Linked DNA regions of Homo sapiens. The protein of the gene in region 2 purifies or fractionates together with the protein of the main gene of each other region. This does not show direct contact. Each region holds a gene or a part of one and is shown on either strand. Other genes may lie near its edges.

Region 1 (2,951 bases), on a different chromosome or scaffold from region 2:
AGAGAAACATTTGATGGATGCAACTGTAATTTGAAGTTTGGCAATACAGCTCTTCTCAAATTTCTTTTACTTCTTAATTTATTGTTTAAAAATGAACATAAATATCCATTATTATTTTCACTCATGCTTTCAGAAGAAACTAAAACAAGCAATGGAGACCTGTCTGACAGCACTGTGTCTGCTGATCCTGTTGTGAAATGATACGGATGGTATTCACTGCACATATGATGAAATCATCAGAATTGTTAAAACTTTTGCCAGTGGAATGGATAAACTATTGATGAATTGTTTCCTGGGTCACATCTCTGGAAAATAGATGTTACAGTTCTTAAAGGCAGTGCTTTAAAGTGAAGTTCATTCTGTTTCCAAAGGCTCTACTTTCAAAGGTTAAGAATGAGATTTTAAAATTGGATTTTTGCCTGGACTTGAGGGTACAAGATGTTTCTATTTGAAGTGAAGTTATAAAAGGGCAAATCCAGATTCATAAACTATCACCTCGGATTTCTTGTAATCTACATGTTTGTAATTTGTATTTGCATAGATCTTTGATCTATAGTTATTTCAAGTCATGGGAAATTCAATGCATATACTATATACAGCCAGTAAATACATGCTTAACAAAAGGAATGAGCCTGAAGTTCATAAAGAATACATATCAATATTCTTATAAAAGGAATATATGAAGATGGCTTTGATACTAGAGGTGAGGCACAAGTGTTTTATGTACTCTCAGTGTACAGTATAACTGATGATCCTTCTTTCATTGTTAATTTCATGTGACTCACAAGAGCTGCTGATGTCTTTGATGAGACATTTTATAACTAGTTTACATTGCTTTGAGAACATTTAACCTCCAACAGCTGCTTTAAATTTAAGATTTACTTAATACTCAGAAAATTCAGATAAAGCCATAGAGTCCTGTTTGAAGCTTCACTTCTATTTTGGTTGAAGGCATGATGTATGATGTCAGAAAAAAAATTGAATGAATTATTTCTACATCCAAACTCAGGTTTCTTCTACATTAGATTGAATTGAAATTTTGGTGATGGTTTGGGTAGACTTTTTTTTTATATCAAGTATAATTTAAAACATCAGATTAAATAATTACACTGTTCAGGCTTTTAAAAAAATACCACTGTGAGAATAAAGCGCTAGCAAGATACATCACTTACTGATTTTAAAAATACAGAAAGATTTTGAGTAAATTTTGTGCCCAGCAAGCTGTTAGTTTTATTTTTGTAAAGGTATGTAAGTTATTAAATGGTTAATCATGGCCTTTTAAAAATAAAATAAAGTGATACCTTTACAATGAAGACAAAAGTTTAAAACTTTCTAATACAAACACCATTTTGGGAAATGCTTGATTTTTTTCTATTGCATTTGTCTGCTAAACATTTCTTTGGATAAATCCTGCAAATACTTCTAACATTATTCTTTGATTCCAGCTTTTAGAATGGGTGTACAATGCCCTGTTTGTACTTACTGGTTAGGGTCAGGGTAACTTGCCAGCCCAAGATAAATACTTTAATTGTTAAAAGTCAGAAGAGACAGAATATGTAGGAAATGTTTTTTGTTTATTATGTAAACATGGCTTACAGAATTATGAACAGTGGATAGATTAAAGGCATTTAATATTTGTAATTCATAATAACTGTAGAAATGGCCCTAAAGCATGCTGCATAATTAATAATTTATATTTTCATTATTATAAGTGTTTATATTAATGATCTTGCATTTGATTATATCAAATTCGTCATTTCATAGCAACAGTATTGTTTTCTCTGTTTTTCTTCTCTAACTTCTCTGAAATCATCTCCTATTAAGGGATAGAAATTGTTACTAGAAGAGAATCACATGTTCTGTGTTCATTATCCCTACACATGTAAATTAATTATTTTATCAATACTAGATAGAGTTCACATGCTGACTCCCTGGATACCTACAGTTGAGAAGAAAATGACAGACAATTATTTTTCCTTTAGGTCAAAATAATGTCACTGCTATCTGGATAAATTATAAGTTCATATATTTGAAATAAGATCCTGGAAACGAATTTAAATGGTGTCAAACTGCAGAGCAACAGGGCTTCAGTATATTCACATCTAATAGGTTAATATGTACATTTGGATGATGATTTTTCTTGATAACATTAACATTAATTTTATTTTTTCAGACATACTGTAATTTAAAAATTAATGTGAGCGTTTGTTTTAAGTTCACAGAAAACTTAATAATTCAAATTCTCAGGAATTAAGGACTCACCATAACATTGTCAGTTCTAATGAAATTTTGTAAAAGATGGCAAGTTTGTTACCTCACTTGAGTGGGGTTTTCCTTTTCCCCCAATTCTAAGAGAATATAATGTGTATACTAAAACATTAATAAACATAATTTTGAAAATTTCCTTCCCCTGGATGTTTATGTTCAAAATTGAATGTCGTAAACCAGTAGTTCTTAATATTAACCTTTTTGGGGTCCCCCTTAATTGAATGAAATGAAATCTGTGGAATCATTTTTTTATAAAATGCATGCACATAGGTAAAAATTTGAAGTTTAAAATTGGCTCCTGTCAATGTATTCCAGGTGAAAGAAAGGTGTTTTCTTTCCTTTATACATCCTTGATCTTTCCAGAGCTTTTTTCCAATAAAAAGAACCAATATGAAGTTACTTTAAATCCTAATCCTGGAAAGGGATTATCAGTATGCATTGTTTAATGTTAGTAATAACTATAGTGCTATTTGCAAACCTGAGTTGAACTAAAACAATACAGTAGTCTCCCCTTATCCGTGTTTTACTTTCCAGTTTCAGTTACCTGTGGTCAGCTGTGGTCTGAAAATATTACATGGAAAATTCCAGAAACAATAAGTTTCAACTTGTGTGTTATTCTGGGTAGCATGATGAAATCTTGTGCTGTCATGCTGCATCCCGCCTGGGACGTAAGTCACCCCTTT
Region 2 (7,000 bases):
AGCCACGGCACCTGGCCCAAACACCCATATTCTAATATACCTCCTCCTACCGCTCTCCCCTCTGGGTTCCTGCTCGTGCCCTAGTTGAAAATCACTATGTGTGATGATGAAAATAAATGATGTGAAAATTATGGAATAAGAATAAAACAACAGGCTGGACTCAGTGGCTCATGCCTGTAATCCTAGCACATTGGGAGGCCAAGGCAGATGGATCACCTGAGCCCAGGAGTCCGAGATCAGCCTGGGCAGCTTGGCAAAACCCCATCTCTACAAAAAATACAAAAGTTAGCTGGGTATGGTGGGGAGCGCCTGTAGTCACAGCTACTTGGGAGGCTGAGCTGGGAGGATTGCTTGAACCTGGGAGCTGGAGGTTGCAGTGAGCCAGGATGGTACCACTGCACTGCAACCTGGGTGACAAAGTGAGACACCATTTAAAAAAAAAAAAAGAATAAAACAAAAGGCATATTTAATAACATTCCCCTTAAATGCATTAGCTTTTCTTCCAAACCTCTTCCTTGTTCTCCTGTATTAATGTATATCCGTATACCAAGTAACTGGGACTAGAAATCTAGGAACCATCCTTAACTCTTTTTTCTCATATCCAATTTTCTTTTTTCTTTGTTTTTTTTTTTTTTTTAGGGTCTCGCTCTGTCACCCAGGCTGGAATGCAGTGATGTGATCATGGGACTATGATCACATCATAGCTGGGACTATAGGCACATGCCACCACACCTGGCTAATTTTTTTTTTTTTTTTTTTTTTTTGTAGAGACAGGATTTCATCATGTTGTCCAGTCTGGTCTTGAACTTCTGGGCTCAAGCTATCTGCCCTCCTTGGCCTCCTGAAGTGCTGGGATTACAGGCATGAGCCACTACGCCTGGCCCCAATTTTTAGTTTTACTTCCTAAAAATCCTTCTTGCCCATACTCACTTGATTGTCTTCCACTTTAAGTTCAGAATCATACTTCTCATCTAGAGCAGTGCTATGGTCTGTTGACTTGTCTCCCTGCCTTTGACATCCCGCATTCACCTCCCTTCCACTCTTACACCAGAGAAATATGTCTCAAATAGAAAAGAAAATCTACTCAGGTCACTTTCCTGCCTAATCCTTCAATAATTTCTCATTACCCATCAATAAAGATCACAGTTTTTTACATGACACCCAAGGCCTTCCATGACCTGGCGCCTGCCTGCCTCATCCCCTGCTAGTCTTTTTATTTATGCCTCATCCAATGTCAACCATTCACAATTCCCCAAAGATGTTGTGCTCTTTCCTTCCTCTGTGCCTTTGCATATACTGTCCTGTTTGCCTGGAATTCCCTTACTATCTTGTCTTGGAGGCAATATAATGCAATAATTAAGAACATAGACTCTGGAGCCAGACTGCCTTACTAAAATCCCAGCTCTGCTACTTACTACCTTCGTGACCTTGGTCAAGTTATTTAGCCTCTCTGTGTCCATCTTAATCTATAAAATGGGGATTAATAATACCTGTTTTATAAGGTATTATGAAATTTGAGTGAGTCAACATATGTAAAGTGTTTGGTACAGAGTCTGGCCAATACTAAGTACTTTGTAAGTCTTTGCTATTATTGTTATTATCATTACTTTATAAAATCCTATTCATCTCCCATGACCTAGTTCAAATCCTCTACTATTGGGCCCTTCCTGACCACCCTTTTGTCCCTGAGACGCAGAGCCAATCTAATCACTCCCTTCTCTGAGCCATCCCTGTATATTAAACATGTCTGTATCATTGCACTTATTTGTGCTGTATCATGGTTGTTTCTTTACATGCCTGTGCCCCGCTATACTCTGAGCTTCTTGAAAGACTATGTCTCATTGATTTTGTGTCACTGGTTCCTGGCACAGGACTTGGCCTATAGTAGGCTGCAGTACATTTTTCTGAATGACCAAATGAAGTAAAATAAAAGGCTTGGCATGGCACGTGAGACCTGTTCTACCCCAGTGCGCTTATCGTCTCATACCTTGTAGCCCCTGCTTTATATGTACGCATTCCAGCCACACCTTATTTCTTGCTGTTCTTTGTTTGTTTGCTTGTTTGTTTGACATGAAGTCTCACTCTGTTGCCCAAGCTGGAGTGCAGTGGCGAGATTTTGGCTCACTGCAACCTCCACCTCCTGGGTTGAAGCGATTCTCCTGCCTCAGCCTCCCAAGTAGCTAAGACTACAGGCACACGCCACCATGCCCAGCTAATTTTTGTATTTTTAGTAGAGACGGGGTTTCACTATTTTGGCCAGGCTGGTCTTGAACTCCTGACCTCGTGATCCTCCCGCCTCGGCCTCCCAAAGTGCTAGGATTACAGGCGTGAGCCACTGTGCCCAGCCTCTTGCTGTTCTTTGTATAAGCTCTTCCCTTCCATGCCTTCAGGGCTTCCTTGAACTTGATGCTTGTCCCTTTTCCTTGAAAGCCCTTCTGTTTCTTTTTACAGAGTCAATTTCTACCCATTTGTCAACCCACTCAAGAACTACTTTGCCTATAAATCTTAGATTATAAACTCCATGAGTACAGGACCTTGAGTTTTCTTTTTTTTTTTTTTTTTCAACTCAGAGTCTTGCTCTATCACCCAGGCTAGAGTGCAGTGGCATGATCTCAGCTTACTGCAGCCTCTGCCTCCTGAGTTCAAGCGATTCTCCTGCCTCAGCCTCCCAAGTAGCTGGGATTACAGGTGCCTGCCACCACACCGAACTAATTTTTGTATTTTTAGTAGAGATGGAGTTTCACCATTTGGCCACCCTGGCCTTGAACTCTTGACCTCAGGTGATCCACCTGCCTTGGCCTCCCAAAGTGCTGGGATTACAGGCGTAAGCCACCACACTCTGTCAGGATCTTGAGTATTTTATTTACTTCTCTGCCCTTGGACGTAGCACAGTGCCTGACACATATTAAGTGGTCAATAAATATTTGTCAAATAAATGAATGTTGAAATGCTTTCTGGGTTCTCTAAGGGAGTTAATCCTTCCCTCATTAGTACTCTCAACGTTTGGTTCAAATATCTGTGGAAGCATTTACTTTACTGTATTGTAATTGTCTGATTACCTGTAGCTTTCTCCAATCCACTATGAATTCCTGAGACCCGGGACTGTAATATCTTATTATGTTCTGATCTGCTCCAAAACCTAACACAGTGCCTGCTACACTGTAGGTAAAATGTATTGAATAAACAGTAATCATCTGTATTCTGGCATGCCGTTGTAGGGTTTTGATAGTAAAGTATTCTACAAATGTTGTGAAACAGCTTATGCCCAGCACAATGCTAAGTACTATAGAGAACATGAGAGAAACTTAAGATCAAAATACAAACCCTCATGAAACTTCCTGAAAAGTGATCAAATTATAAGAAGTTAATAAATAATGAAGCCAGGTGTGGTGGCTCATGCCTATAATCCCAGCACTTGGAAGGCCAAGACAGGAAGACCACTTGAGCCCAGGAGTTTGAGACCAAACTACATGGTGAGGCTACATGGTGAGGCCTCATCTTTACCAAAAAAAATTAGCAGCCAGGCGCAGTGGCTCACACCTGTAATCCCAGCACTTTGGGAGGCTGAGGCGGGTGGATCATGAGGTCAGGAGTTTGAGACCAGCCTGGCCAATATGGTGAAACCCTGTCTCTACTAAAAATAAAAAATTAGCTGGGCGTGGTCGCGCGCGCCTGTAGTCCCAGCTGCTTGGGAGGCTGAAGCAGAAGAATTGCTTGAACCTGGGAGGCGGAGGTTGCAGTGAGCTGAGATTGCGCCACTGCGCTCCAAGCTGGGCGACAGAGCGAGACTCCATCTCAAAAAAAAAAAAAAATTAGCCGGGCGTGGTGGCATGCGCCTATGGTCCTAGCCACTAGGGAGGCTGAGGTAGGAGGATTGCTTGAGCTCAGGAGGTTGAGGCTGTAGTGAGCTATGATCATACCACTGTACTCCAGCCTGGGCAACAGAGCAAGACCCTGTCTCAAAAATAAAATAAAATAATGAGGAAAAATTATATGTGATCCATTACAGAATTGTCATATAGACAATAAGGGCTAAGAGGTAAGAGAAGAGGCCTGGCGTGGTGGCTCACACCTGTAATCTCAGCATTTTGGGAGGCTGAGGTGGGCAGATCACCTGAGGTCAGGAGTTTGAGACCAGCCTGGCCAACATGGTGAAACCTCATCTCTACTAAAAATACAAAAATTAGCCGGGTGTGGTGGTGGGCGCCTGTAATCCTAGCTACTCGTGATTACAGGAGGCTGGGGAAGGAGAATCACTTGGACCCGGAAGGCAGAGGTTGCAGTGAGCCGAGATCATGCCACTGCACTCCAGCCTGGGTGACAGAGCGAGACTCTGTCTCAAACAAAAAAAAAAAGAGGTAAGAGAAGAGAGAGCTTAGTCCCTGTTTTAGTGCCCAAAGAAGGCTATGTGGCAGGGCACCATAAAGGGACAGGAGGATTTGACTAGGTCTGATATACTCTAGGGAAGTAGTGACATATAACCATTCAATGAGTGGTATGTGCTCTTCTGTTTCCTCTATGTATGCATGATGCTTGGTGTGTTCACAATGGCAAATTAAAAAGAAATTGAGTTAAATGTGAATGTTAGAATCAGCTAGGTCCACTTTCTGCCAAGTGACTTCCAAACATGAGCATTATGTTTTAATGCCAAGAACCTACTAAATGTTTAAGCCTCAGTTTCCTCATCAGTAACATCAGAAATAACAGTACCCCATCTGCATGATTATTATGAGAGTGAAATAAATAAATTCATATTGAAAGGGCTAACCATTGTGCCTGGTATGTAGTAAAAACCAATAGTTTCCTCTTTTCATGTATGGAAAAGGAGGGGCTTGTATAGTAAAACCAAAGCTGAGGAGGAGGAGGATGATAGTAGTAATAAGGATTACTACTAACATTTATTGAGTCCATTTTTATGGTCCAGGCATTGTGCTAACTAATGCTTTACATATATTAACTCTTTAAATCTTAATAATAGCTTTGTGATATGTATGCTTTTATCATTTATATTTTACAGATGAAAAACTAAGGCACAGAGAGATTAAGTAGCTTGCTTGAAGTCATGTAGCCATTAGTGGCAAAGTTGGGATTTGAACTAGATAATCTGGGTTCATAGTCTGTCCCCTATAGATAGGGTGAGCTGGAAAAAAAAAAAAGTGGAAGTTTCTGAATGCCAAACTGAAGAGGTATAAAAATCTTGGAATATTAGGACCATTGTACTTCTGTTATCAGTATATATTACAAGTAATTTTGCCATAGGTGTATCACATTCTATAAAAGTGATTCTCAATAGAGCTCATGTAATGTCCATTTAAGTGGTAAAGGTTAATTTGGTTAATCTCTTTTTACTCCCTTAAGAGGAAGTGATTTCTTCTGTTGGTTGCAATAAGAGAATTTTTTAAATTAAAAGGTCCTAGAGTATACTCATTCTTTTAGGTTCATCACTTCAGAAGGTTCTATGAACCTTTCCTGCCTTTGTAGGATCAACTAGCCAATATGTTGCCTCCTGCCCCCACCAGTGGAATGGTGCCCACGTAACTGCTTATGAGTGAATCATTTTCCCTAATTGGTTTTGTCAAACCTGACATTTCAGCAATCCACAACTGTAAAACCAGATGGTATATTGGAAAGCACATCTTCTTTCTGGCAATAACTATTCTACTCCTCATTGTAGTGTCCTTATTGATATTTTGTGTCCATTTCTCTTGTTCCTCCAAATAATTTGAGCAATCTATTTTCTGGCCCATAGTTAGAGATTGAGACATTTCTTGATATATATGGAATTCTTTTGCTCTTGAATAGACTGATGTTTTTCCTATTCCTGACCTAAAATTTCATATCTGAAAACTGTACTGTACTTAGTCCTTGAAGGTAGAAATAGTTTTGTTCAGTTACACCTACTGTGCACTGGGGATAGTGAGATAAATGAGAAATGGTTCCAGCCCTTAAGGGAAAGACAGCCTTGTCGATGGTAAGTATTTGCAGAAAGCATAGATGCAATAATAGGAGTCTATACAAGTTGCAGAGGGACGCAAAGTGGAGTATGGTAAAATGTGGTAAAGGAGAGGCAAGAAAGGCTTCATAGAAGACATGATGCTTGAAGAGAGTCTTAAAAAATGAATAAGTATTTATCAGGTAAATGAGGTAAAGAAAGAACATCCCAGGCAAAGGTATGAAATTCAAAAGGAAGCTGTAAATAGTTTGGCGTATCTGGAGCAAATGATGAGACTGAAAAGAATGTCAGGAGCCAAGTCATGGAAGGCCTTTTATGCCATGCTAAAGAGTTTGGACTTCTTTAGTTCCATATGTTGATATTATCTGATGTGGAACTCTTAACCTGATTCCAGCCATGCAGAAATGCTGGATTAAAAGTCTCCAATACAGAGCTGAGCTTGAAAGCAAGAAAGGGAAATCCTTAGGTGCCAGGAAGAGAGAGGAAAGCAAAATCAGAGCTGTAAATGGGAGCTGAAGCTAAATAGTTCCAGGGAACATTGAATCCAGATATAATGCTTAGGGGCTGGGATTTTAAGGCCAGTATGGATGGGAGATAAGACCTCGGGCTAATGTGATGTGGGGAGCTAGAATTGATCTCCTATGTGAAGCTGGAAGCCGAAACAGGACTACCATATGTTTGTGAGAAATGAGCTAGAAAAATTCCATCCACTGGTCCAGGGAAGCAGATTGTTACCTTCTCAGGGTCTTAGATGGAAAAAGAGTGGACAATAATAATAAATTAGAACCACACTCTTATTACCATGCATGAATATGTGTACAGTCATCTCTCAGTATCTGTAGGGGATTGGTTCCAGGACCCCCACTACAGGTGCCAAAATCCACTAATGCTCATGTCTGTTATATGGAGTGGTGTGCTATTTGCCTATACTCTATATAGATCTTCTTGTATAGTCTAAATCATTTCTAGATTACTATACAGGTTGAGCATCCTAATCTGAAATCAGAATGTCACAAAATCCAACACTTTTGAGTGCCAACATGGTAC
Region 3 (7,493 bases), on a different chromosome or scaffold from region 2:
GTCCCAGCTACTTAGGAGGCTGAGGTAGGAGGACCACCCGAGCCCAGGAGTTTGAGGCTAGCCTGGACAACATAGCAAAACCTGTCTCAAAAAAAAAAAAAAAATTAAGGCCGGGCGTGGTGGCTCATGCCTGTAATCCCAGCACTCTGAGAGGGCGATCACCTGAGGTCAGGAGTTTGAGACCCACCTGGCCAACATGGTAAAACCTCGTCTCTACTAAAAATACAAAAAAATTAGCCAGTCGTGGTAGCAGGCACCTGGAATCCCAGTTACTAGGGAGGCTGAGGCAGGAAAATAGCTTGAACCTGGGAGACGGGGGTTGCAGTGAGCCAAGATCGAGCCACCGCACTCCAGCCTGGGTGACAAGAGCAAGACACAGTCTCAAAAAAAACAAAAAAAACAAAAAATTAAAATTAAAAAAAAAGGCAAATGAGTGACCTTTCATCTCACCCATGACAATTATGTAAAAATGGTCAAGAAAATCAAGGTCCCCTTTTTCTATCACATTTAGACCAAAGCAAACTCTTTCAGATTCTCATTTACAAGTTTCATAGAAAATAAGCTCTAATCTTTAGTCTAAGGATATCCCCCACACTTCATTTCCTAGCTAAAAAGTACTGTGTTCTAGCTTAATCTCTCACGTTTCACTGAAAGGATAAAATAAAGCCTTCCACAAGACCAAGAGCAGGGATACTCCAGAGTCTCTCCCCATAACTGCCTACTCAAATAAAACATTTCTCTCACCTTGGCTTAGAAGTTATTTCCCTTACCGTGAAATTCAAAGACGTAGACATTCAAGGGACTACCCGCCTTATAACCCACACACTTTTTTTTCCAAAGCAAAATGTTAGGGTCAGAATGTACTAAGGTTTTAAATATTAAATAAAACCCTGTTCAGACCTAGAATGATAAGACAGTATACTAACTGCAGTCTGTAACCCACAAATAATTTCTCCTTATTCCTCTCAAATCCAAGAGCCGGGATTGTTAGTACACACAGAGAAATTCCTGTACTTTAACACCAAGACCAGAGGTTAAAATAACTGGTCACAGGTGACAACTCAGGCACCTCAGAACCAAAATAGAAGAAATACTCTGAGCACTTAAAACAATCACGGTACAGTACTCTACGCAAGCCACAGTCAACAGAAAAAAGTATACACATAAAATACCGCCCCTTGGGATCACAAGGTCAGGAGATCGAGACCATCCTGGACATGGTGAAACCCTGTCTTTACTAAAAAATACAAAATATTAGCCGGGAGTGGTGGCACGCGCCTGTAGTCCCAGCTACTCAGGAGGCTAAGGCAGGGGAATCGCTTGAACCCAGGAGGCGGAGGTTGCAGTGTGCCGAGATCGCGCCACTGCACTCCAGCCTGGCGACAGAGCGAAACTCCATCTCAAAAAACAAAAACAAAACCCGCCCCTTTTTCCCCAGAACCCAAAAGAAGTTAATGCCTACCATCCCAGGTTGCTCAGACCTAAAAATGTGTACACATTAGAGTACACACAGAAGAGTTAAAGAAATGAAGGACTTCACTGCAAAGGCAGAGTGAAGGTGTCCAGCCGGGCACGGTGGCTCATACCTGTAATCCCAGCACTTTGGGAGGCCGAGGCGGGCGGATCACCTGAGGTCAGGAGTTCGAGACCAGCCTGACCAACATGGTGAAACCCCGTATCTAATAAAAATACAAAATTAGTCGGGCGTGGTGGCGCACGCCTGTAATCCCAGCTACTCGGGAGGCTGAGGCAGGAGAATCGCTTGAACCCGGGAGGCGGAGGTTGCAGTGAGCTGAGATCACGTGTATTCTAGCGTGGACAACAAGAGCGAAACTCCATCTCAAAAAAAAAAAAAAAAAAAAAAAAAAGAAGAGGTTTCCACAGGTTGCCCCACTTTCTCCAAGCCTAAAACCTCCGAGTTCAGCTACCCAGCTATTCCGAAGCTCAGGGATGCCCTGGAACTTCCTTTTCCTGTCTAACTTCACAAAAGGTCCCAGAAGGAGGAGTCACGTGATTTTTCAGGGTAAAAGCCGAGAGATCCCTAATACTCAAACCTGTCTCAAACTGAAGAGGGAGAATAAGAACCGTCCTTAAGCACACAGGTAAGACACACACAAGGCAGAAGGCAAATAAACGTATCCCTCAACTCTGAGGAGAGGCAAAGAAGAGAAACGATCTTTGCACCAGCTCTGTCTCTGTCTCTGTTTGTCTCTCTCAGTACCAAGGGCAGGGACTCTGGCAAGACCCCGCCCCCCACCCCCAACTCCAAAGCAGGGTGGGCGGGAGGCAGCCTGAGGAGTCCCTGTTCCCGCGCGAAGCTCAGAGACCAAAGGACTCCCTATTGTGGGTCTACGAATGGTGACGGGAACCTGTCCCGCTCGAGCTAAAGAGTAAGCCGAGGGCTCACTAGGCCCTCACCGCGGCCACCGCCGCCATGGAGCCGACCGCTGTCACAGAAGGGCTCCACCAGGGAAGCGGGAGGATGGCCCCGGCCCAGAGCCTACCCAAAGAGAATTCACGCCTCACAATGTGTGGGAGGCGAGGGTCCCGGAGCCTTACCTCGGACACTTCGTCCTCGTCACTGCCAGAGGCACCACCTCCACCCCCGGTCCTCAGCACGGCAGCCGCCAACTTGAAATCCAGCGCCGCGTCCCCTCCGCCCGTACCGCTGCCGCTGCCGCCGCCGCCGCTGCTGCCGACTCCCGACGCTGGCCCGGCCTCCCCAAAGAGCCTCACGGTGCGGATCCCCAGACCGACCCCTCCCGGCGGAGGCGGCTCCGAGGCCCCAGCTGGGGCGGATCGCGGAGCCACAGAGTCCAGGTCCTCCTCAAAGGAGGTGCCGCCGCCTCCGCTATCAGTCAGCATTGTTCGCACCCGGAGCCGGAGACGGTGCCGACCCACTCGCGGTCACCGCCGCCGCTGATCTCGGGAACGAGAAGAGCAGCAAGAGGAAGAAGCGTCTCCTTTCCCCCGTCCCAGCAGCGCCACTAACTTCTCACTGCCTAACCTGCTGCCTCCCGCCCCCTCGACTCGCCACTGGCTGCAATACCCTGGCGGCTGCAGATCATTGGCCAAAGTGACCCGTCGCTCAGGCTCTTCGTCACGCGCCGCTCGCTGGCTCGCAGCCGCCAAGCTGCGTTGACCCGCGCAGGCCTAGGCGGTTGCGAACACCCGCCTCCCACTCTTCACCAGCTGACTTCCGCTCTTTTCCTATGTCTATTGGCCAACCCGCCTGACTATCGCGTCACGACCTTAAAGTGGATTAGTTGGCCTTGTGGTCAGTCATAGTGACCCCGAACAATGGGAGAATTCATTGGCGCCATAAAGTGTCGGTCACTTTGTCGCGGGACGTCGCGTGGTACAATTGGCCTGTGGGAGTACCATTGATCCCGCCCTCATCTGAGGTGACGGGAAAGGGCCGGGAAATTTCCACTTCTGAATAAAATGACTGCTGAAGTGATGACCCGCAAGAATTGGTCAAATTTGGAGTAGACTTCACCCTGCGCTTGGTGAAACTTCTACGTCAAGGATGCAAGAGGCGCCGAAGTAACGCAGCTCCCACCTGTCGCTCTCCGCTGGGCGCCGAGACTATGGCCGGAGAATAGCTGCACCGGGATTGGAGAAAGGAAGCCATCAGTCTTAGGAAGGCTCCACCTTCCTGCCATTGCCTGGTTGGAGGAGCGTAGCGTCAGTCACTAGAGCAGTCACCACCTCTGGGACAGGTGAAGATGTGTAACCTATTTGCCGGGGGCTATTTGGGAGGGAATAGAGGACGGGGAGCGATGAGGGGACAGTCGAGGGGCAAGGCCGATCTCGCTTCGCGCCTCCCGCCTTTCTGAGTTGAGCCTAGCGCGCGGGTCTGAGGGACATCCGGGGAGCTGCTTGGGATGGCCGCCTTGGGGAGACTCGACCCGCCCGCCAGGACCCGGCCGCGCGCCGCAGTTCGGGCGCCTTCGGGCAGGATCGCCCAGCGGGGCCGCGTTCTCCTGCTTGCGGACGGCTGCGGGCCTGAGGGCTGGACAGCGCCATGCCTCAGTACCGGGAACTGTCCCACGTAGGAAGGTGGGAATGCCGCGAACGGCGTGCGGAATCCGACCTCAAGGTGGAACGGGGTGGTGAAGAGTGCATGCTCCGAGGCAGTTTCGAGTTCTGGTGCTGCCACTTACTTGCTGCCTGACTTCGGCGCGTTTGCTGTTTCATTTTTGTGACTTTCAACTCGCTCCTCTGTGAAATGGGAGTAATATTAGTACCTTCCTCATTGGGTTGTTGTTATGAATAAATTAGATGATAATATAGCGCTTAGCAAAGTCCCAAACTTACAGGAAAGACTCATTTTTGCTAGTTATTGTCTCCTCTTCCTTCAGGAACTCTCTGCTCGCCCCTGGGTCCTGCCAGCCCAACTAATTCTAGTTCTAATCAGATCTGTGTGGTGCAAAACAAGGCTAGCTGTGGTGGTCTTCCCTCCTCTAAGGAGATCTCTTCCTCCCTATATGCATCTCTCTATCTCTGTCTTTATCTTGTCAGTAAAGAGGGGGGTTAAAAATATTCAGATTCTATAGCGGGCGCCGTGGCTCACGCCTGTAATCCCAACACTATGGGATGTTGAGGCGGGCGGATCATTTGAACCCAGTAGTTCGAGCCCAGCCTAGGCAACATGGTGAAATCCCGTCTTTACCAAAAATACAAAAATTGGGCTCGGCGCGGTGACTCACGCCTGTTAATCCCAGCACTTTGGGAGGCCTAGGTGGGCGGATCATTTGAGGTTAGGAGTTCTAGACCAGCCTGGCCAACATGGCGAAACCCCGTCTATACTAAAAATACAAAAATTAGCCAGATGTGATGGTGCGTGCCTGTAATCCCAGCTACTCGGGAGGCTGAGGCAGGAGAATCACTTGAACCCAGGAGGCGAAGTTTGCAGTGAGCCAAGATCGTGCCACTGCACTCCAGGTTAGGCGACAGAGCAACACATCGTCTCAAAAAAAAAAAAAAAATTAGCCGAGCATGGTGGTGCATGCCTGTAATTCCAGCTACTCAGGAGGCTGAGGTGGGAGGGATCCCCTGAGCCTGGGAGATGGAGGTTGCAGTGAGCCGAGATCGTGCCACTGAACTCCAGCCTGAGCAACAGAGCGGTGCCCTGTCTAAAAAAATTAAAAAAATAAAAAAAAAACGGTTTCTATCTAATCCTTTAATCAGACATGACCAAAAAAGGAGTCTGGTGGTTTGTATGGAAAATATCCTTTGACCCAGAGAATGTCCATATGATAACAGAATTTGGCTGAAAAAAAAAAAAATGGCCGGGCGCAGTGGCTCACACCTGTAATCCCAGCACCTTGGGAGGCAGAGGTGAGCGGATCACGAGGTCAGGAGATGGAGACCATCCTGGCCAACATGGTGAAACCCCGTCTCTACTAAAAATACAAAAATTAGCCAAGTGTGGCGGCGCGTGCCTGTAATCCCAGCTACTCGGGTGGCTGAGGCAAGAGAATCGCTTGAACCCAGGAGGCGGAGGTTGCAGTGAGCCGAGATCGCACCACTGCACTGCAGCCTGGCGACAGAGCAAGACTCAGTCTCAAAAAAAAAAAAAAAAAGTCATTTTCTCCTCTCTTACAACTTTAACAAAGGCCTTTATATATCTCAACTGTGCAATATTTAATATTTCGTCATCCTTAAACTGGGATCTTAAAATTTTATAAGAATATAATGATTTTTAAAATAACTTTAAAAGTTGATTCTGCCAAACATTTATTTAAAAAACATTTTGAATATCATAAACATTTCTTTGGCTTAGTAATTGCTCATTTTGACATTTCACATGTAAAGGATAGTGTTTTCTATGAGCAGAACATGTTTGTTAAATGTTCTTTCTAGATAATAAATAAGTTGTAGAAAATGTTAAAAAAAAGTCTTGTACCTATTCTAGAGAACTATTTTAATGTAAATGCTATGTACACTGGCTTTAGTTAGCATTTGTGGAACTTAATTAGCCTATATCCTCAGTGCTGTTAAGTTTTCAAGGCATGTGTGACTAAGTCACAACCCAAACTAATAACACCAACAAAAGAAACCTGGCACTGCCCAACCCACTTCAAAGCTGGATTATCCAGAATTGGTATGGATACATCCTTAGGCAAAAACAGGTATTGACTGGTACAGCATTACAAAGGAACTAGTTGTCATGCTTACTACTGATACAAAAATAATTTCTGATGCAACTCCCTGAACAAACTCATTAAATTCTTTAAACAAATACAATGACTCTCAAGGACACAGGGAAAGGAAATCTGGATATATATACATTTTTCTCAATTTATTTGAGAGGGAAGAAAACACTCTCTTTACTCAGTGCCTAGCAACTAACCCTGAGTATAGCTAAAGAAATGTGATTGAGCAATAATCTTTGTTTCACCAGGACCTTTACTTGAGATACTTGTCAGTAGTTTGACAGTCAGTATGGGAATTAGGAACTCCTAGTCTCCTATATTTTGGTGACTGCTATATAGAATCTCTATTAAATGTGATTTAATGGCTGGGCATGGTGGCTCACGCCTGTAATCCCAGTACTTTGGGAGGCCAAGGTGGGTGGATCACCCGAGGTCAGGAGTTCCAGACCAGCCTGGCCAACATGATGAAACCCCGTCTCTACTAAAAATACAAAAAATTAGCCAGGCGTGGTGGTGGGCGCCTATAATCCCAGCTACTCAGGAGGCTGAGGCGGGAGAATTGCTTGCACCTGGGAGGCAGAGGTTTCAGTGAGCCAAGATCACACCACGGCACTTCAGCCTGGGCAACATGAGTGAAACTTTGTCTCGAAAAAAAAAAAAAAAGAAAGAAAGAAAATGTGATTCAATAGTTCCATATATACTACATTCCTATGGTTTTAAAATTTGAAAACTCATTGATAAATCATCACAATATCAAGTGATACATTTGACAAATAAATAAAATCACACTCAGGCCAGGTATGGTGGCTCATGCCTGTAATACCAGCACTTTGGGAGGCTGAGGTGGGTGGATCACTTGAGGTCAGGAGTTCAAGACCATCCTGGCCAACATGGTGAAATCCTGTCTCTACTAAAAATACAAAAATTGGGCTGGGTGTGGGGTCTCATGCCTGTAATCCCAGCACTTTGGGAGGCTGAGGCGGGTGGATCACAAGGTCAGGAGTTCGAGACCAGCCTGATCAACATGGCGAAACCCCATTTCTACTAAAAATACAAAAATTAGCTGGGCGTGGTGGCACGCACCTGTAATCCCAGCTACTCAGGAGGCTGAGTCAGGAGAATCGCTTGAATCTGGGAGGCAGAGGTTGCAGTGAGCTGAGAACACGCCATTGCACTCCAGCCTGGGTGACAGAGCGAGACTCTGTCTCAAGAAAAAAAATGGAGTGGAGATTTGCTCAGTGGCAGTATCATAGCCAAAGGCATCATTATTGCTAATTGAAAACTTTTCCCAATAACCTGCCATGGCCTTGAAATATAGTAAGCATTGGGAAT
Region 4 (7,051 bases), on a different chromosome or scaffold from region 2:
AATTCTGGGACTTAAGGAACATTTCTTGTGGGAAAATCTTCAATTTTCAAAAAAAGAATGCTTGGCTAAGAATTTTTTTTTAATAACAAAACAAGTAACCACTTTCTGACATTACAGTATATTTATAGTAAGGTTTTCTTTGATTGACGTGAGTTATGCTTATCGTGATGGTTTTGGAGGGAACAAAAAATATTAATTTCTACCATATATTCCTTAAAGACTTGGGCATTTGTTTTATGTGGCAAGATTCACTGTTTCACTACTTTCTGGGAGACAGAAATATAAATTCATGTTTTATATATAAGTATGTAAGATGTATATTTAAACACACACAGACAACCTGCGTCGGCCTTCATTGTTTACACACTTCTTAATCTCATTGTCCTGTGATGACTGAGGCAACAGTTCAAAGATAGCTTTATATACTATGGGTCAAACAACTCAGCATTCTTTAAAGCATCATCTTTACATGTACAAAATAATACTAAAAATGAATAGCCCATGAACCAACCTACCATTCATTACCCAAGTCACTCACTATGGGGATAGGATAGGACTGAATTACATAAAGGATGGATAATACGACTTTGTATTAAAAGACTAGCTGGGTACACGGTTGGCATTCAAATGCTTGCTCATTAGATTAGTGATCGAGGAGAAGGGTACTCAAGATTTAAACACTTCTAAGACATTTGTCTGGGGTTAAGAAAGTGAATTTTGAAATTGAATTTTGAAACTAGTATCAAGAGCAATGTACTTCAAAACAAAAAATTAGAAACAAAAATGTAAATTAGCCTAACAGAACCAAGCTAGGCGGAGTAAACTCCAATGCATTTGTATACTAAATGGCAGCCAAGCACAAATCCCACACTTGAAAAATTATCAGCTTTTTCCTCTACAGAACACTAATTTTTTTTCCAGTAGAAGAAACCTAAGGCAGAGAACTGTGGATGCTGTACTACAGTACTCAATACTCTAAAATAAACTCAAAGAGAAAAAGGAAATAACAGGCAAACATTCTGGGAAAAAAAAAAAAAGACTCAATGGAGAAAAAGATGAAACAAAGCCTGTAAGTAGGTCACCTCATTGCTTTTGCTAATGCCAAAGTACCAATCCTTATCATTTTTATTACCAAGAGTTACTGAAGGAAAACACCAACCTTTGTGTTGGCTGCAATCCAATTGGAGGTTTCACTGTCATCATCACACTTTTTAATCCATTTCTTTAACCACTGTTTGAAAATAACAACGGTTAGGATACAACAAAAGACTTTTAAAAATAGCAAATTACTTTAGCACTTAACTATAGTCAAGCTTAAATGTAAAAGCCAATGAATAAGATTATCACTAGGCTCACATCCTCTTAAGCCAGGGAAATCCCATAGCTACAATGTCCAGTATATATAAAATCAACCAAAGCAGGATTTTCTTTGGCAGAAGCTGAGTGGGGAACCTAGAGCTTGAAGAGAAGCCCAACTGCAAGGTGTGTATTCCCCTAATTACAAAGCCTGACAAAGAGGTGCCTTAGCCATGGTTATCCTAATAACAATCAGGAGCTGACTTGGCTTATCCTAAGGAATTACCTCTGAATACATGTAATGATCATCTGAAATTAAAAGGATAAAAAAAAATCTATCAATAGATAGATAACAAAATCATCAGCTATGATTTTTAGTCACTAAGTCTTAGAAGTGTGCCATTATTTAAAAATTGAAATGTCAGACAAACTCACCTTACATTTAACAGGATCATGCCAATTTTCTCCACAGTTAAAGCTGTTAAGTGACACAAAGAGTTAATAGAATTAAGGCCTACCTACTGTAAGCAAGTAAATAAGCCAATCATTTCATGCCTTATAGTTCCACAGTATTGTCACTAGTTTCTAGTGACTGGCAAATACAAGGAGAGAACCCATGTCTGCTTTACAGTTAATTACCTAGAATTTAGTAGTAGAACTAGCACATAGTGGGTACTCAATATGTGTGAAGAATGACTATAAGCATGAAGACACGCTTTGATGACAATTTCATAATAATTGTTGCTAAGGTGCCTCAGACTATATTGAGAAGTTTCAACCCATGCTTCATCAGTGCATTTTTAATCTTTTACTTAACACCCTAAATGAAGAATAAAAGGCTGACTTTGTAGGTTACTTATATAATTTAGTACTAATACACAGTAAACAATATATGGGAAGCAAATAGGTCACATCTTTGCATTATTTAAACAAATGAACCTCCGCCCTGTAGAGGGAAATGGTACTGGGCAAGGTATAAAACAAAAAGACTAAATACTCACTAAACATGTGTTAATCAGTAATTCACTTTTGTTTTCTAAGTTCATGACATATACACTTGTAAAAGAAGTATAATTAACAAACACAAATGCTTAAGAAAAAAATAATAAAATGACAGATTAATTAGCTAATTAAGTAATTTACGAATGGCAAAAAGTCCTTTGCTAAAGACAGAAACAAACTACTATTGATTTAAATCAGGTTAAGATAAATGGTTATTTCTGAAAAGAAAGATGGGGAATGGGAAGGAGCAGGGAACCAAGGAGCTTCAAATATATGTGTCATGTTTTATCTCTTAATGAAGAAAAACAAAATACTAATTTTGATTTAACTGGATTGTAGCTATATAGGTATTCACTGCTGTATTCTCTATACTTTTATGTTTGAAATGTGTCACGCTAAAAATACATTGGAAAGTAGGTATTATCCACCTTTTCTCTAAAATAACAATACATAATTAATCTTTATCGAAACAGTATGTATTTTACACATACTTAATCTCTGTGAGCTTACCTGCTCTTTTTGGAAATATTTATTATTAATGATGTGTTAAGTGTAATTCTATAGATGTTTGGAGGAAAAAAAGAAAGGTATGGAATACCAATAAAATATTTCCCCCTCCAAACCACCCCGCAGCAAAAAAGAAAATCTGGCTGGCCATGGTGCTTCTCACCTGTAATCCCAGCACTTAGGGAGGGCCGAGGCAGGTGGATTACTTGAGGCCAGGAGTTCAAGACCAGCCTGGCCAACAAGGTGAAATGCTGTCTCTATTAAAAATAAATACATAAATAAATAAACAAATAAATAAATAAATAAAAATTAGCCAGGCGTGGTGGCACACGCCTGTAATCCCAGCTACTCAAGAGGCACAAGAATCACTTGAACCTGAGAAGCAAAGGTTACAGTGCGAGATCGTGCCACTGCACTCCAGCCTGGGTGATGGAGTGAGACCCTCTCTCAAAACAAAACAAAACAAAAAATCTATTTGCTGGGTCTAGAGCCCCTTGACTTGATTGGCTTCTTACTCCTCAAGACCCTCAAAGGAACAGAAAATCATCTTAACTTCTAGCAGGATATAAATGTTTGTGTCCCCCTAAAATGTGTATGTTAAAACTTAATAACCAATGTGACAGTATTAGGATGTGGAGCCTTTAGGAGGTGAATGGAATTGGCATCCTTTTTAAAAAAAAAAGGGGCCCAGAGAGCTGCCTTGTCCTTTCCACCATATGAGGACCCAGCAAGTAGGCACCATCTATGAACCAGAAAAGCAGGCCCTCGCCAGACAACAAATCTTTTGGCACCTTGATCTTGGACTTCTCACCCTTAAGAACTGTAAGAAATAAATTTATGTTGTTTAGAAGCCGCCCAGTTTATGGTCTTTTGTTATAAAAGCCTGAACATTAAGACAGAAAATGGTACCAAGAAGTGAGGGTGCTGTTCTAACAAAACCAAAAATGTGAAAGCCGATTTGAAACTAGGTAGTAAGTAGAGGCTGGAAGAGCTTGGAAGTGCAAGCTAGAAAAAGCCTAGATCACTGTGAATGAACTGAATTGTTAAGGGTAATTCTGGTGAGGATTCAGAAAGACAGAAGTGCAGGGAATGCCTCAATCATAGAGAAAACCTAAATAAATGGCCATGAACAGAATGTTGTTAGAAATATGGACAGTAAAGGCCATTATGATGAGGTCTCAGATGAAAATGAGGAACATGCTGTTAGAAACTAGAGGAAAGGCCATCCTTGCTATAAAGTGGCAAAGAAGTTGGCTGAATTGTTTTGTGGAAGGTAGAGAAATGAAACTGAATATCTGGTTGAGGAAATTACTAAGCAAAGTGTTGAAGACGCAGCTTAGCTTCTCTTGAATGTTTATAGAAAATGCAAGAAGAGATGAATGACCTAGAGATAAACTGTTCATCAAAAGGAAATAAGAAGTCAAAAATTTGAAAAATTTTCAGCCTATCCACTTTGGAAAAAACTAGAACACCTATAAAGGAGCCTGAACTGATTAAGACATCCCCTAATATGTGGCACTGGAAACTTCCTGGCAGTTCAAATCTAGAATTCAGAGGCTGAAGAGTATACTATAGAACTCCAAAAGCCCAAGTTACCAAGAAAGCTGGGCGAGAGGAGCCACAGGAAAACTCTTAGTTAAAAAGGAGACCATCAGCAGAATTTACCTGCACATTTCCTTTGCATAAGTAAGGTTAAAATTTGGCAGAGTAAAGAAAAACGTATAGTCCCAGATCTACAAGTTTGCTCCCATTAAGTTACAGTGGAGCATACAGGAAGATATGATTAGAGTTGTATATTTTCTCCATAAAAAAAAATTCAAAAAAGTTAGAACATCAAGGAAAGAGGAAAAATTTTTTTAAGATGTGACCTTTTCATTCAATTCTGAAAGAGATATATACTATTTTAAACCAGTATCAAACATCTCCCTGCCTAAGGTAAACACTTTTTTTCTGCTATTTTACTACCAAGAATAAACAGGAGAAATGGAAACGCTTTGTGCACTATTTCAATTTAGGAAATCACTTGCTTACCAAAATTGGCGCCCACATTTGCAGCGAACAGGTTTAGCATCAGGATATTGGACTTTAACAACATGGTGGCAATCTGGGGCAGGACACCACTTTAACAGTCGATTGCACTGAAATACAAGTTAGAAAATAAAAAATGACAGCTGGCTGGGCACAGTGGCTCACACCTATAATCCCAGAACTTAGGGAGGCCAAGGCGGGAGGACTGTTTGAGGTCAAGCACTCCAGACCAGCCCGGGCAACATAGCAAGACCTTGTCTCTACCTTAAAAAAAAGAAAAAAGAATTTAGCCAGGCATGGTGGTATGTGCCTGTAGTCCCGACTACACAGGAGGCTGAGGCAAGAGGATCACTTGAGCCCAGGAAGTAGAGGCTGCAGAGAGCTGTGATCATCTGCTGCACTCCAGCCTGGGTGTTAGAATGAGGCCCTGCCTCAAAAAAAGACAGCAAATTAAATTAGGTCATGATGCAAGATTTCCTAGTACATCAAGCTATTTATATTGCTTCTCTGGTACAAGGGGCAAATGGGGGATAATTACACAAGCTTATGAAAACTTGCTGTGGTCTTCTATAGCAACACTTCAGATGTGCCTTTTTTTTTTTTTTTTAAAGATGACTGATCCCTGAAGACCTGGTTTTATAAAATACATGAATCACCTCTTGTTCTATCTTCAAAATCCCACTGAATAACTTTAATTAAATATCATGTATGTGACCATTAAAAACCACTAATTTATTTACAGTTCTATTTCAGAACAATTTTCAAAAGACACAAGAAAATCAGATATACTCTTTATCAAGGAAGGTGTTTAGAAGCTACAGAATAGTTCAAGATAGGCTAAAGGATATACATACAACTTCTCCCATAAAAAGCTCTTGTAAGAAGGAAAAAAAAAAACAAACAAAAAACCCAGTTCCTAAACCACAGGCAAAGATTGCATTTTAGTTCCTCAAAAGGAAATATAACTTTTATAGTATTATGAAAAAAAAACACTCTGCACCAGAATTCAGAAGTCCATTGACCATTTCAAATAATACACTATTTCTAAAATAGGCTGTTTCCAGGTTTAATCTCTAACAGAAATAATTACTTTCTAGAATTAAAAGACCAAGTTACTGATGTTGTCATACAGGGGCTGAAAAACTCCTCTGTAACAAGCCAAGAGGGTAAAGAATTTTGGTTTTGCAGGCCAGAACAGTCTCTGTAGCAACTACTCAACTCTGCCACTGTAGCACAAAAGGAGTCATAGAACAAATGGGCAAAGGCATGGTCCAATAAAGGATAGCATTCTTTATTAACAAGATTTACTGGTAATGAAACCTAAAACGAGCAGAGAAATAGCAGGGTTAGAATCTCAAACATGATTAAACATGACACGATTAGTAATCTACTACAATTCTCAGCTAGGGATAAAGAAAAGTAAAGGAAGAATACAGTAAAAATAATTTTATTATCCAAGGTCAAGATCTATGGAGAGATGTACTTACTGGTTTCTCATACTCTTTTATTTTATTTTATTTTATTTTTTATTAAGAGGGAGTCTCGCTCTGTCACCCAGGCTGGAGTGCAGTGGCGCCATCTCGGCTCACTGCAACCTCTGCCTCCAGGGTTCAAGCGATTCTCCTGCCTCAGCCTCCCGAGTAGCTCGGATTACAGGCTTGTGCCACTGTGCCCAGCTAATTTTTGTATTTTTAGAAGAGACAGGGTTTCGCCATGTTGGTCTTGAACTCCTGATCTCAGGTGATCCACCCGCCTCGGCCTCCCTTAGTGCTGGGATTACAGGCATGAGCCACCACACCTGGCCTGTCATACTCTTTTGAGAATAAAGGTATTTTGGCATGCTTCATAAATATGTTAAAGATGTTTTTTACTGTCAATAAATTATAATTTTTAAAATAGTATTTCTATTAATAAACAGAATTCCTTCTTACAAGAAGGAAAACAAATCACTTACCTCTACAAAGCTATTTGTTATTAAATGCTGATACTTTAATTTAACTTTTGAATCTGTGATCAGGCGCCTGAAACCAAGAATAAAAATAGATTAGAAAGTTTCCAGTCAAGAGTATTTTCCACATTTATAAAACATAGTTTCAAAAGCTGTTTATGCTACGGCTACATGTTTATGCCCTAAGCTGTAAATACTGAAATGCACATAGGCTATCAACAAATATAACTGTACTGATCAGAACAATAATTTCAAAGTTTGTATAGTTTT

Evidence for each region.
Region 1: the proteins of TCEANC2 (region 2) and WASHC4 purify together in Homo sapiens (affinity purification with mass spectrometry; 2 studies listed by BioGRID and IntAct, with this or other methods). This does not show direct contact.
Region 3: the proteins of TCEANC2 (region 2) and ANKHD1-EIF4EBP3 purify together in Homo sapiens (affinity purification with mass spectrometry, with the first as the bait; 2 studies listed by BioGRID). This does not show direct contact.
Region 4: the proteins of TCEANC2 (region 2) and ARIH1 purify together in Homo sapiens (affinity purification with mass spectrometry; 2 studies listed by BioGRID and IntAct, with this or other methods). This does not show direct contact.

What each region holds. Positions count from the first base shown.
Region 1 is NC_000012.12:105,166,731-105,169,681, forward strand, and holds the end of WASHC4 (WASH complex subunit 4), read left to right. Parts: intron 1-133; coding exon 134-201; 3' UTR 202-2,400; downstream 2,401-2,951. UniProt on the Homo sapiens protein: Acts as a component of the WASH core complex that functions as a nucleation-promoting factor (NPF) at the surface of endosomes, where it recruits and activates the Arp2/3 complex to induce actin polymerization, playing a key role in the fission of tubules that serve as transport intermediates during endosome sorting.
Region 2 is NC_000001.11:54,056,608-54,063,607, forward strand, and holds part of TCEANC2 (transcription elongation factor A N-terminal and central domain-containing protein 2), read left to right. Parts: intron 1-7,000.
Region 3 is NC_000005.10:140,397,340-140,404,832, reverse strand, and holds the start of ANKHD1-EIF4EBP3 (ANKHD1-EIF4EBP3 protein), read right to left. Parts: upstream 3,001-7,493; 5' UTR 2,866-3,000; coding exon 2,560-2,865; intron 1-2,559. Other genes in the region: ANKHD1 (ankyrin repeat and KH domain-containing protein 1), read right to left, coding at 2,560-2,865. UniProt on the Homo sapiens protein: May play a role as a scaffolding protein that may be associated with the abnormal phenotype of leukemia cells. Isoform 2 may possess an antiapoptotic effect and protect cells during normal cell survival through its regulation of caspases.
Region 4 is NC_000015.10:72,561,286-72,568,336, reverse strand, and holds part of ARIH1 (E3 ubiquitin-protein ligase ARIH1), read right to left. Parts: intron 6,855-7,051; coding exon 6,788-6,854; intron 4,944-6,787; coding exon 4,837-4,943; intron 1,775-4,836; coding exon 1,732-1,774; intron 1,232-1,731; coding exon 1,160-1,231; intron 1-1,159. UniProt on the Homo sapiens protein: E3 ubiquitin-protein ligase, which catalyzes ubiquitination of target proteins together with ubiquitin-conjugating enzyme E2 UBE2L3.